Homo sapiens: one gene and its partners. The protein of the gene in region 3 purifies or fractionates together with the protein of the main gene of each other region. This does not show direct contact. Each region holds a gene or a part of one and is shown on either strand. Other genes may lie near its edges.

Evidence for each region.
Region 1: the proteins of ITK (region 3) and NSUN6 fractionate together in Homo sapiens (co-fractionation; one large-scale study listed by BioGRID). This does not show direct contact.
Region 2: the proteins of ITK (region 3) and IBTK purify together in Homo sapiens (affinity purification with western blotting, with the first as the bait; one study listed by BioGRID). This does not show direct contact.

The regions. Positions count from the first base shown.
Region 1 is NC_000010.11:18,641,475-18,645,127, forward strand, and holds part of NSUN6 (tRNA (cytosine(72)-C(5))-methyltransferase NSUN6), read right to left. Parts: intron 2,167-3,653; exon of another isoform or gene 2,095-2,166; intron 1,082-2,094; coding exon 1,002-1,081; intron 1-1,001. UniProt on the Homo sapiens protein: S-adenosyl-L-methionine-dependent methyltransferase that specifically methylates the C5 position of cytosine 72 in tRNA(Thr)(TGT) and tRNA(Cys)(GCA). In vitro also methylates tRNA(Thr)(AGT).
Region 2 is NC_000006.12:82,209,632-82,213,284, reverse strand, and holds part of IBTK (inhibitor of Bruton tyrosine kinase), read left to right. Parts: intron 1-491; coding exon 492-578; intron 579-1,712; coding exon 1,713-1,795; intron 1,796-1,880; coding exon 1,881-1,918; intron 1,919-2,374; coding exon 2,375-2,471; intron 2,472-3,653. UniProt on the Homo sapiens protein: Acts as an inhibitor of BTK tyrosine kinase activity, thereby playing a role in B-cell development. Down-regulates BTK kinase activity, leading to interference with BTK-mediated calcium mobilization and NF-kappa-B-driven transcription.
Region 3 is NC_000005.10:157,179,376-157,183,643, forward strand, and holds the start of ITK (tyrosine-protein kinase ITK/TSK), read left to right. Parts: upstream 1-1,464; 5' UTR 1,465-1,602; coding exon 1,603-1,740; intron 1,741-4,268. UniProt on the Homo sapiens protein: Tyrosine kinase that plays an essential role in regulation of the adaptive immune response. Regulates the development, function and differentiation of conventional T-cells and nonconventional NKT-cells.

The DNA of each region.
Region 1 (3,653 bases), on a different chromosome or scaffold from region 3:
TCCACCTCAGCCTCCTGAATAGCCGTGACGACAGGTAAGCACCACCATACCCAGCTAATTTTTGTAATTTCTTTTACTAGAGGTAAGGTTTTGCCATGTTGCCCAGACTGGTCTCCAACCCCTGGGCTCAAGGGATCCGCCTACCTCAGCCTCCCAAAGTGCTGGGATAACAGGAATAAGTAAGCCACCAGATCCAGCCTGAAACCTATTTTTCAATTTTCAAACATATGCTTTCCAAATACGTAAACGCGCAGAACATAAATGGGACACAGTAGTTTAACATAATTGTTGAATTATGAATAAAATTTTACAGGCTGGGCAACGTGGCTCACATCAGTAATCCCAATACTTTGAGAGGCTAAGGTGGGAGGATTGTTTGAGGCTAGGACTTCAATACCAGCCTGGGACACATAGTGTGACTGTTTCTACAAAATAAAAAATAAATTAGCCAGGTGCAGTGGTGCGCAACTGTAGTCCCAGCTACTCAGAAGCTGAGGTGGTATAATTGCCTGAGTCCAGAAGTTCGAGCCTGCAATGAGCTATGCTTGTGTCCCTGCACTCCAGCCTGGGTAACAGAGCAGGACGCTTTCTCAAAAAATAAAATTTTACAAACATATCAGCTATGAAAGTAGAAAACAGGTTACTCTATATTTTTGTTGCAGCTCAAAAAAGAGTTTTAATTTAGCACTGAAAATTCATATGAAATACAAGTAAACAAATGAAATAAAACTTCACAGAAAGTGGGGGGGGGAAAACATCACTGCACTAAATGGACCTAAAATGCATTATTCTCAAGATCCTTGGGCCCATTCCTAGCCTTCTTTTGTATTATTTTCCATGACAGAGTCTAAAGTCTGCATTTATGAAGTTTTGAATTCCTGTTATCTATAGAAAGTTGCTAACAATGGAGAAACTTAGTATTATCACTGAACAATTAAAAAGCTCCCTGTGACAAACTTTTATTGAGAATAATATAATTTGGAAATGAAGTTCTTACAAACCTGGGTCCAATAACAGGAATAAGTAACACATCTTGAAGGTCTGGATGTTGAAGAATAGGAACACTTAATCCATTAAACTGCTGTTAAAGATAAACATGATTATAAAGTAATCCATACATTTGATACATTTCAACTTATGGAACTTTTCAGTATCATCATCTACCACAGCATGAAGCCCTAGTAGCTCTGGGGCATTTTCACCTTATTCCACGGGATACTGTAAAAATCCAAAAGACCTCAAAACAACAATGTTTTCTCTATTTTAATTCTGAAGTATCCTAACTTCCTTATAAGACTCAATTTTGCTTACTATTTGGCATTATAAACACAAACCGTGGTTACCCTAAATGATTTACTTTAGAAACTTTTATTTAATATAGAATTACATGTAGTATTCCTTTAAGAAAAGTTTCTGAATAAGATGTTAAAGACTGAGATTACTATTGATAAATACTACCTAATATACACAATCAACACTGGCATCCATGTCAGCTTTGGTGAGGAAAAGAAATGTTTATGGTAGAGGTTTGGGATTTTCAGTATCCTCTATTATAAGGGAACCAGAAGATTATCACACTGAAAGCAGGTACAGGTGCGGGAGCCAGCTCACACCAGCTCAGGAGAGCCACTGCATGCATCTCTTTCCAATTCCATGGTCACACATGTAGCTACCAGGGAACATGGTGAGTATTTATACCACAGAAATCAACAAACACCACAAATTGGGGTTATTTTTCCCAGAAAGGGTTTGTTAAATATGTACCAGCATACCACTGTCACAAGCAGAAGACAATTGGACACCCTACACAGAATAAAAAACAGCTGCATAGGGGACTGGATGACAGGGACCGTATACTCTATTAGAGGGCAGCACGCAAATATCTGACAACAAGTCTGCCTCGTAGGTTAGGGTTTATCAACTCCATTTTCACATACTACATAAAAGACCAATCACCACAATGCATGTTTGCATTGCCCCACAGGATTCATACACTATCTACAGAAAACTTCTGAGATCAACTTACTGATTTCTAAGTTGATAAGGAAACAGAAAATAATCGTGCATATTTTAGAAATAAAACTTCATATCTACCAAGTCACCAGCTCTCTGAACTTCTGCTTCTTCCAAAGGGTCTAGTTATCCAACAGATAACTAATAAGCAATCTGAAAGATAAATTCCACCTCAATCAATCAAATCCTTCTTCCTTTCTCTTTCCCTCCCTCCTTCATCATTTTGATAGCCTTACAGTATCAATTATAGGGAACAAATCTTGCCAAAGAGAAGATAATGAACTTTGATTTTTGTTTTGTTTTATAAGTAACATTTGATTTAGACTATAGAAATATCTTATACAGAGATCAAAGCTTCTCAAGCCAAAGGTCATTGTCTCTCCCTTTCGATTAGAAGCATGTTAATATATAAATAAAACCCATAAAACCACACATGTACATACCCTTCATAACACACGTTTTTTTCCAAACCAAGTATATCACCAGCTTCTTTTAATGTTGGTTTCTGCCCAATGCTATTTTAAAACAGCCTTATTGAGATAATTTACATACCATAAATTTCACCCATTTTAAACGTACAATTCAATGATTTTTAGTAAATTTAAAGAACTGTACTCCAGTTTTAGACAATTTCCATCATCCCACAAAGATCCTTCACGCTCACTGGCAGTCAATCCCTGTTCCCATTGCTAGGCAACCACTATCTTTCTTTCTCTATAAATGTGCCTTTTTCTGGACATTTCACATAAATGGAATACAAACCAAGCATCCCTAGTCTAAAAATCTGAAATGTTACAAATCCAAAACTTTTTGAATGCTGACATGATGCCAGAAGTAGAAAATTCCATACTTGACCCAGACTGGTCAAAGTCAAAATGCAGGCTCACAACACAGTTCATCCAGCCTATTGTGTTTTTGTTGTTGTTGAACAGCTAATTCAGGTACTCTGGTGATGCTACTGTGCTGCTTAGTTACCCTGAACACATTATTTTTTTCACTGTATTAAGGTATGTCTTTTTTTTTTTTACTGTTAAGTGCTTACATATGAGTAAGTACAAGAAAATGTTGGCCGGGCGCAGTGGCTCATGCCTGTAATCCCAGCACTTTGGGAGGCCGAGGCGGGTGGATCACGAGGTCAGGAGATCGAGACCATCCTGGCTAACATGGTGAAACCCTGTGTCTACTAAAAATACAAAAAAAAAATTAGCCGGGTGTGGTGGCGGGCGCCTGTAGTCCCAGCTACTCGGGAGGCTGAGGCAGGAGAATGGCGTGAACCCAGGAGGTGGAGCTTGCAGTGAGCCAAGATCACGCCACTGCACTCCAGCCTGGGCGACAGAGCGAGACTCCGTCTCAAAAAAAAAACAAAAAAAAAAAACTGAAAACGTGTAGGTCAGGCACGGTGGCTCACTCCTGTAATCCCAGCACTCTGTGAGGCCGAAGCAGGTGGATAACCTGAGGTTAGAGGTTTGAGACCAGCCTGGCCAACACAGTGAAACCCTGTCTCTACTAAAAATACAAAAATTAGCTGGGTGTCTTTGAGCGCACCTGTAATCCCAGCTACTCAGGTGGCTGAGGCAGGAGAATTGCTTGAACCTGGGAGGCAGAGGTTGCAGTGAGCTGAGATCGCGCCATTGCACTCC
Region 2 (3,653 bases), on a different chromosome or scaffold from region 3:
GGCTGAGGTGGGCAGATCTCCTGAGGTCAGGAGTTTGAGACCAAGCTGGCCAACATGGCGAAACCCTGTCTCTACAAAAAATTACAAAAATTAGCCGGGAATGGTGGTGAATGCCTGTAGTCCCAGTTACTGGGTTGGCTGAGGCAGGAGATTCATGTGAACCTGGGAGGTGGAGGTTGCAGTGAACTAAGATCATGCCACCACACTCTAGCCTGGGCAACAGAGCGAGGCTTCGTCTCAAAAAAAAAAAAGGAAAAACTTTGTGCTATGGCTTTGATTTGTCTTTTGTCAGTAATGTTTAATCTATTTTGAATTCTAACTAAAATGGAAGAAAAAGTATGATATTTCTTTATCTCAGAGTAGGAGTTTGTTGAGATACTTTTCTAGGATACAGTATTATATTTAGATGTAAGCTAATTTGTTGGATTTTTTGTTGTATGTTTATTTTTGTAGGGGAATATCAATTGTTAATTTTTATCTATCCTTGATAGGTTAGATGGAGTCAGATTTGAAAATGAAAAAATTAATGTTATTGCCAAGAACACTGGTAATAAACTGAAGCTAAGTCAGAAAAAATGGTAAGTAAGGAAAGGAAGATTAACATTTCATGTCTGGATTTTGGCACTTAAGTGTGGAAATAGATCTCTGCTTACCCACATATGAAGCAAAATGTATAGGTAGATACCCTCTTACCTTTTCTAGTATTCTGCATTTCTGGAAATGTTGGGGAGCTGTTGAAGTAAATTGATAAAATATTAACTGCTGAAGACATCAAAGGAGTTTTTTCTTTCCGATGACTTTCTAATAGAGAGTGGAACTTTTAATTTTTATTTTTTCTTGCCTGAATTTTGTGCCTTGTTATAATTAGGAAATGTTATTAGCCCCCAAACCAATTAATTATACCTCTTCATCATTGTTATGATTATTGCCTTTAGTATAAAAAATTCTTAGTAATAAATATACTATTCTAAATATATTGTTAAAAAGTTTTGTTTTTAGGGCCTGGTGTGGTGGCTCACGCCTGTAATCTCAGCACTTTGGGGGGCCGAGGCAGGTGGATCACCTGAGGTCAAGAGCCTGATTAACATGGTGAAATCCTGTCTCTACGAAGAAAATACAAAAATTAGCCGGGCATAGTGGCGGGTGCCTGTGATCCCAGCCACTTGGGAGGCTGAGGCAGGAGAATCACTTGTACTCGGGAGGCGGAGGTTGCAGTGAGACAAGATTGCACCATTGCACTCCAGCCTGGGTGGCAGAACGAGACCCCGTTTCAAAGAAAAAAAAAGTTTTGTTTTTAGCTATTCATGCTTCCTCTGTAAGTGAAAAGGTTTTGGAGAAGGATAAACTGTGGAGTTGTTTCAACTGTGCTTGGCCCAGATTAGCTACTACAAATAAGTGAATTACAGAGACTTAAATATGATATCACTTAGTATTATATTATTAACAGTTTTTCTGGAATAAAAAAAAGGAAAATCAGAAAAATACTTTTTGAATATTTGTATTCGGCTCCCTTTTCAAATATTGTCTTTACTCTAAGGCCCTTATCTTCCCTGTGGTGGAAAAAGATGAAGTATTTTATTGTATGTATTCCTGCAAGTTATTTATTCTCTGCCACCTTTAAGAGAAAACTGAAAGTTAAGCCAAATCCTATAATCTTTTTCACTAAATATGTAAAGAAATTGCTCTTGCTTCAATTAAACATTTTCTTGCAGTTCATTTCTGTGTGACGTGACCATGAAATCAGTGGATGGAAAGGAATTTCCTTGTCATAAATGTGTTCTTTGTGCTAGACTTGGTAGGTGCACTTTTTAAAGCTGCTGATTTATTTGCTGTAGTATTGTTTCACTATTCTTATTGCATTGAACTTTTTTTTCTTTTAGAATATTTTCATAGTATGCTGAGTAGCTCATGGATTGAGGTAAGATTTAAGTAAAAAGCGCCTAGGTTGGTAACTATGTTTCTTTATATTTTGTGCAAAGTATGTAGTAAAGAAATTCAAAATCAGAACTGGATATTTTAGCTCAGTTTTTCATTTATATTAAACTTTATGCTTGAGGCTGCTGGAAAATAGCAACACTTAGAATTTAAAATTATTGCCAAGAAGCTACTTAAATAAAAATTTCCCCGTTATTATTTAGAAATGTATTAGGAACACCACTGTGTTTCTTGTTTTCTGAATTTTTTTGTTCCTTTTTCATGTTATGTTTTAAAATTAAATTTAATATTATTTTAGCCATGTGTTTTGTAAATTTTATGTTTTGCATTTGATGTGATTTCCTGTTCAGAGTGTTTTGTACCAATAACCCAAATTAGAATGTAATATTTTATTGTTTAGAATGAATTATTTTACTTTATTTTGTCTTATTTTATTTAGGCTTCCAGTTGTGCAGCTCTGGAAATGCCAATACATTCTGATATATTAAAAGTTATTTTGGACTACCTCTATACTGATGAAGCTGTGGTGATAAAAGGTATTAATAAGAGTTAGGACATTGTAGATACTTCACATATAATGGAATAATGGTAAAATCAACGTGAATCTTAATTTCTAATAGAAAAAAACCATCAATAAAGGCTTAATTTATTTTATTTTTAAAATATTTAATTTATTTTTTATTATTTATGGAGACCGGGGTCTTACTATGTTGCCCAGGCTAGTCTCAAACTCCTAGGCTCAAGGGATTATTCCACCTCGGCCTTCCAAAGTGCTAGGATTATAGCGTGAGCCACTATGCCTGGCCAATAAAGGCTTAATTTAGAATAAGCAATAGGAATGATTGCTAATAGTAAAGGAGCAGAAAAAGGTTTTCATTACCCATGTGAAAATGAACTCTTTGAGAATTAGTGCTTGCTTCGGCAGCAAGTATACTAAAACTGGAATGATACAGAGATTACATGGCCCCTGTACAAGAATGACACGCAAATTTGTGAAGCGTTTCATTAAAAAAAAAAAAAAAGGAATTGTAGGTAATGGTTGAAATTAGATTCAGCAGTTCAATTTCCAGCTACTTCTATGATGGAGATGAATGAATTGACAACAGGGATAGTTTTGACAAATACTTACATAAGTTCTTTCTTACCTGTTTTTCCCCTTTGTGGTTACACATCTTGAAAGAAACAGATTAAAAATTGTACCAAAATTTATGAAGAGAGGTCATTTATGTACTTTGTTAGGCAAAACAGTAACTTTTAGTTACAAGATATGTTTACTCATTGGAATGGTACTGGATGTTCTGTCATATTCCATTAGTTTTTTTTAACCCCAGCTGTATACTGGGGATAAAAATAAGTGGATAGACCTTTTTTTATATTCAAGAAACTCAATCTAGTGGAGAAGACAAATGTATAAGAAAACAAATATAATCCAACAGAGTAATTCTCTAAAAAGCAGATGCATTTTTAAGAAGCTAGCCTCTGAGTCTGCCTAGGAAATCTGGGTAGTCTTGTAAGGAGATAGAGTTTAACTGAGGACAAAATTTCTGAAGATTTGTATACTTGAGAGTAAGATAACTGAGACATGGTATGTTTTTCTCTACTTTCATTCTTTTTAAAAATCGAGAAATTATTTGCATGATAAAACTTATACTTTTAAAGCATACAATAAGTAGTTTTTAGTATGTTTATGAATTTGTGCAACTATCATCACTGTATAA
Region 3 (4,268 bases):
CAGGGTCCCAGGCTCTTTCTATCTTATACTCCATTGTCCTCAACATTCAATTTCCACCTCATGATACTAGATAGCTGCTTCAGCTCCAACTGTTACCTCAATATTCTAGTCACAAGGCAGGAGGAAAAGGGAAAGAAAAGGGGATGACAGATCCCACTAAGGAAATTTCCTAGAAGTTGTGCACACGACTTCTGCTACATTCAGTTGACCAGAAGACAGTCATACAACTACACCTAGCTACAAGGGAGGCTAAAATTTGTAGTCTTTATTCTTGCTGGCCAGATGCCCAGATAACTGTCAGGGATTCTGTTACTCTAGTAAGAAGGAGAGAGTAGCTATTTGGGAATAGTAGCAATCCCTACCTCAAGCCCATACTCAGAAAAAAAAAATACTATCTTGTTTGGGCAGTGTATTTCCACACATATGTCTTAAGAATCTCAGAATGGGGGAGGTAATTTAAAATATACCAGTACCGTACCCTCCTGGGTGTCTTGATTATGCTGGGGCATCCAGTATATGAAATAAAATTAGGCTGTTGTCTGGTAATTTACATTTAAAAATAAACATTGGAGAATTTCACTCCTATACAGCAATAATTATTATTTCATTTATTATTTATCCCTACCCACTACATGCAATATCTGCTTACACTAAAATCTCTTGATTATTAACATAGTAGAGGTAACTGTCACACATTATACTTCAACTATGTACTAACTCTAAGGTGACATGTATGACTAGCACCTACCATTCATAAGATGTATGGGATTCAGTCCTCCAAAGGACCCTCACAAGGAAGCTAAGGATCAGAGAAGTCATGGCTTGCTCAAAGAGAAACAGCATAGTAAGTGACAGAGCTGGGAATCCAACACAAGTTTGTCTGTTTTCAAAGCCCACATATACTTTGTTTATTATGCCATTCTGAAGGATTCACTTATTTTTCACTCTTCCACAAAACGTCAGGACAGAAAGGCAGTCATCTATATGTAGCATTGAGAAATTTCTATGGGCTTTAATTTAAATCTTAAAAACTAATAAACTTCAGCAACATATTTCTTCACTTTAATGTGTGAGGGTTTTGTGCTCATTACCTCTTTTAATTGTCCAACCCAATTTGGTGATGATCCATTCAACAAATTTTTCTTGAACATCTGTTTTATGTGTCAGGTACTGTGATGGTTGCTGAGTATATCATGGTAAGCAAAACCACACATTGTCCTTACTCCTTGTGCTACATGATTTAACTGCTGGATGGATTAAACCAGGAACTATAAAGATTAAACTGTAATCCTTACCACAATTTTGAGTTTACAGTTTTTCAAATATCATTTCAAGCCATTAGCAAAGGCTGTATGTATTTTTTACATATGCCTCCTCGTTTTGTGAATTTTGAAAGGATGTGGTTTCGGCCTTTGACATCAGAGGAGAAGCTCAGCTATGTTGGCTGAACGTTGATAGAAAGATAACGTTGAAGGCAAGTTGCCCTTGAGCAGCTCTCTGAAGATCAACTGCCTCCACATTGCATTCTTTGCCCCAAAACTCTTTCCTTTGGTTGTGCTAAGAGGTGATGCCCAAGGTGCACCACCTTTCAAGAACTGGATCATGAACAACTTTATCCTCCTGGAAGAACAGCTCATCAAGAAATCCCAACAAAAGAGAAGAACTTCTCCCTCGAACTTTAAAGTCCGCTTCTTTGTGTTAACCAAAGCCAGCCTGGCATACTTTGAAGATCGTCATGGGGTATGTGAGCAGTTTCATTTGTCTTTTTTCGCATAGCATTTTATGTTTGGACTGGGCTAATGCAAAAATATATACATAGCATAAAATAGAGCACAGGAAACACAAACATGCTTATTGTAACAACATAAAAAGTACAGTAAAAGTAATCAGAGGAGAATGCAGAGAGCAGTCAAGAGGTGAAATGGTGGTGCTAGGTGATTTCAGTTCTAAAAACTGTAAATTTAACATTCATCAGCTTTTTCCCCCTGCAAGGTTATGTTTGGTTTTTAAATTATGAATAACATTTTAGGTAGCAAGTATTATGATTCGATAAAACTTGAACTTTCTATGAAACATACTAAATTTAATGAAACATACTAAATTTAATGAAACATAGATTAATACAACACTAGCATTCAATGGGATGATCTACCCCAGCTTTCTTATTTTTTAGTGGAAGAAACTGGTGTTTAGAATGGTTAAGTTTTGGGTTCAGTGTTAACGTTTTCATGAATAACTCTGTTTGTCTCAATACTCGTCGCTAGCCTGATCTTGAAATAAGATTTCCCAGGCATTTAATTATCTAAAAGTTGTAAGGCACAATGGCAAACCTCTTCATCTCTTGATAGACTTCTTAGGACACCAGGGTTATTAAGAACAAAGTTTCTGCAGTGCAGACCAGCGGTTCTTACCCAGAAGGAGTATGGCTGCTTTGCTAGGTCAGTCTATCTCTTTATCTAAAAATAGTCTTGTGCTTCTTAACATCACTAATAACAAAAGCAACAGGAATAATCCTAATAATGTAGTTTGGTAGAAAAAGCATTGGACAAAGGGTCAGGAGACCAAACTCTACTTCTCAGTAGGTGATCCAGTCTGGGCAAATGTCTACCTCCTGTTTCAGGTTCTTTCTTCATAAAATGAAAAAACTGGAAATAACAACCTTCAAGATCCCTTTCTTCTTCAAAACTTCTTTGCTTTATGCAGTGGCTCTTGTTTAGCCCTATGCTGCAATTTTTCAAAGCATGTTTGATTTCTTACTGTATGGTTATATTATTTTTACATCATTAGTGGGGTAGGACAAGGATTATCACTTATATTTTACTGAAGGGAAAATAATATTAGGTGCCTGATGGTCACTTAGAAACAAAAGTGCTCCAGTTCTTTGTTGGAGTCTGACTTAGTAGGTGGTGGCATGAGTTTGGGATTCTTTGGTGTGCCAGGGTTTAAAGCACTTCATGAGATGGAGCTCCAGAGGAGGTCAGGCTGGGTATAGAGCCTATGGATGCCTCACTTTTTAAAGTTGCAGGTGTTGCATGTCTTTTGTGAATTAAAAAAATACAGAAAACAAAAAAGTTGCAGGCGAAATAGCTCTGCCTCTTTAGAAGTGAAAAGAATTGCTTGTCTTATTATCAGACTCTTACTGATAACAATTTACCAGTCAATCAGAAAACACATGGAATTACGTGCAAGTCCTCTTTGCTAGGTGGCCAGGAGCCCAGTTTGTGAACTTGGGGGATTTATCATGTAGAGCTAATAAATCGCATGGCATTACTCAATGCTTTTTTGTGAATGGAACATTTAAAGTTTTTGTTTCATATTGAAAGAACAGTCATGTACCTTTAAATATTTTTTTCAAAGTCCATTTTGCAGTTTTCACCAGTTCGTTTTTCTGATTCAACATAGTATCATCTCATTTAGTTAGTATTAATAATTCCTTAGCCCAACTGCTATTTGTGAACTGATTGTGAATTCAGCTCAATATTATTTGTAAGTAATCACAAAACCAGATGGCCTTAATTCAGAATATTATTGGTCATAATTTGCATGTAGACAAGGTTGTAAAATCACCCTACTTCTTTATCTGAGCATTATGGAAAATTTCAAGACAATTACTTCATTCTGGGGAGCCCTAGGCTACAGTTTCTAATTCTTCCATGTGAGATATAGAGAATACATGTCCAAACATCAAATTTCTTGTTTTCTAATGCCTTTTTTACTCTTATAAATAACATTTTAAAAGTATTTCTTTAATTATTTAATTATTATAGAAGTTTATTAATTAGAAATTTATCCAAGTTCCCTGAAAAAGGTAATATATGTGAATTATTATTGTTCATGTCTTAGGTATACTACATGGTTTCAGGCCACCAATTTGCACACAAGGCTGCATTAATATTACTCATAAGTAAATAACATTACACTTATGGGAAGAACATTTTCATTTTTAAATTAAAGGCTTCATTTTCAATCTGTAAAATGGGTGTGATAATAGTACCCATTTCATAGGAAGATGGCAAAGACTCAGAGGTATAATGTCTTTAGGCTGAACTTTTTGAAATTATTTGGCAGATCGAATATCAGATATTAGAAGTTTCAAACAATTCAACTTAATATATTAGGTACTTAGCATAGGCCCTGTCATCTGGTAAGCATCTAGTAAAAATTAACCATTATTTGTATCCCTTTCATGTCTCTACAGAAGCTAGCAGGCTGTCATAACAATTCATTTTCAAATTATGGGAGATATTCAAGGATTCTTCAAAGTCAAG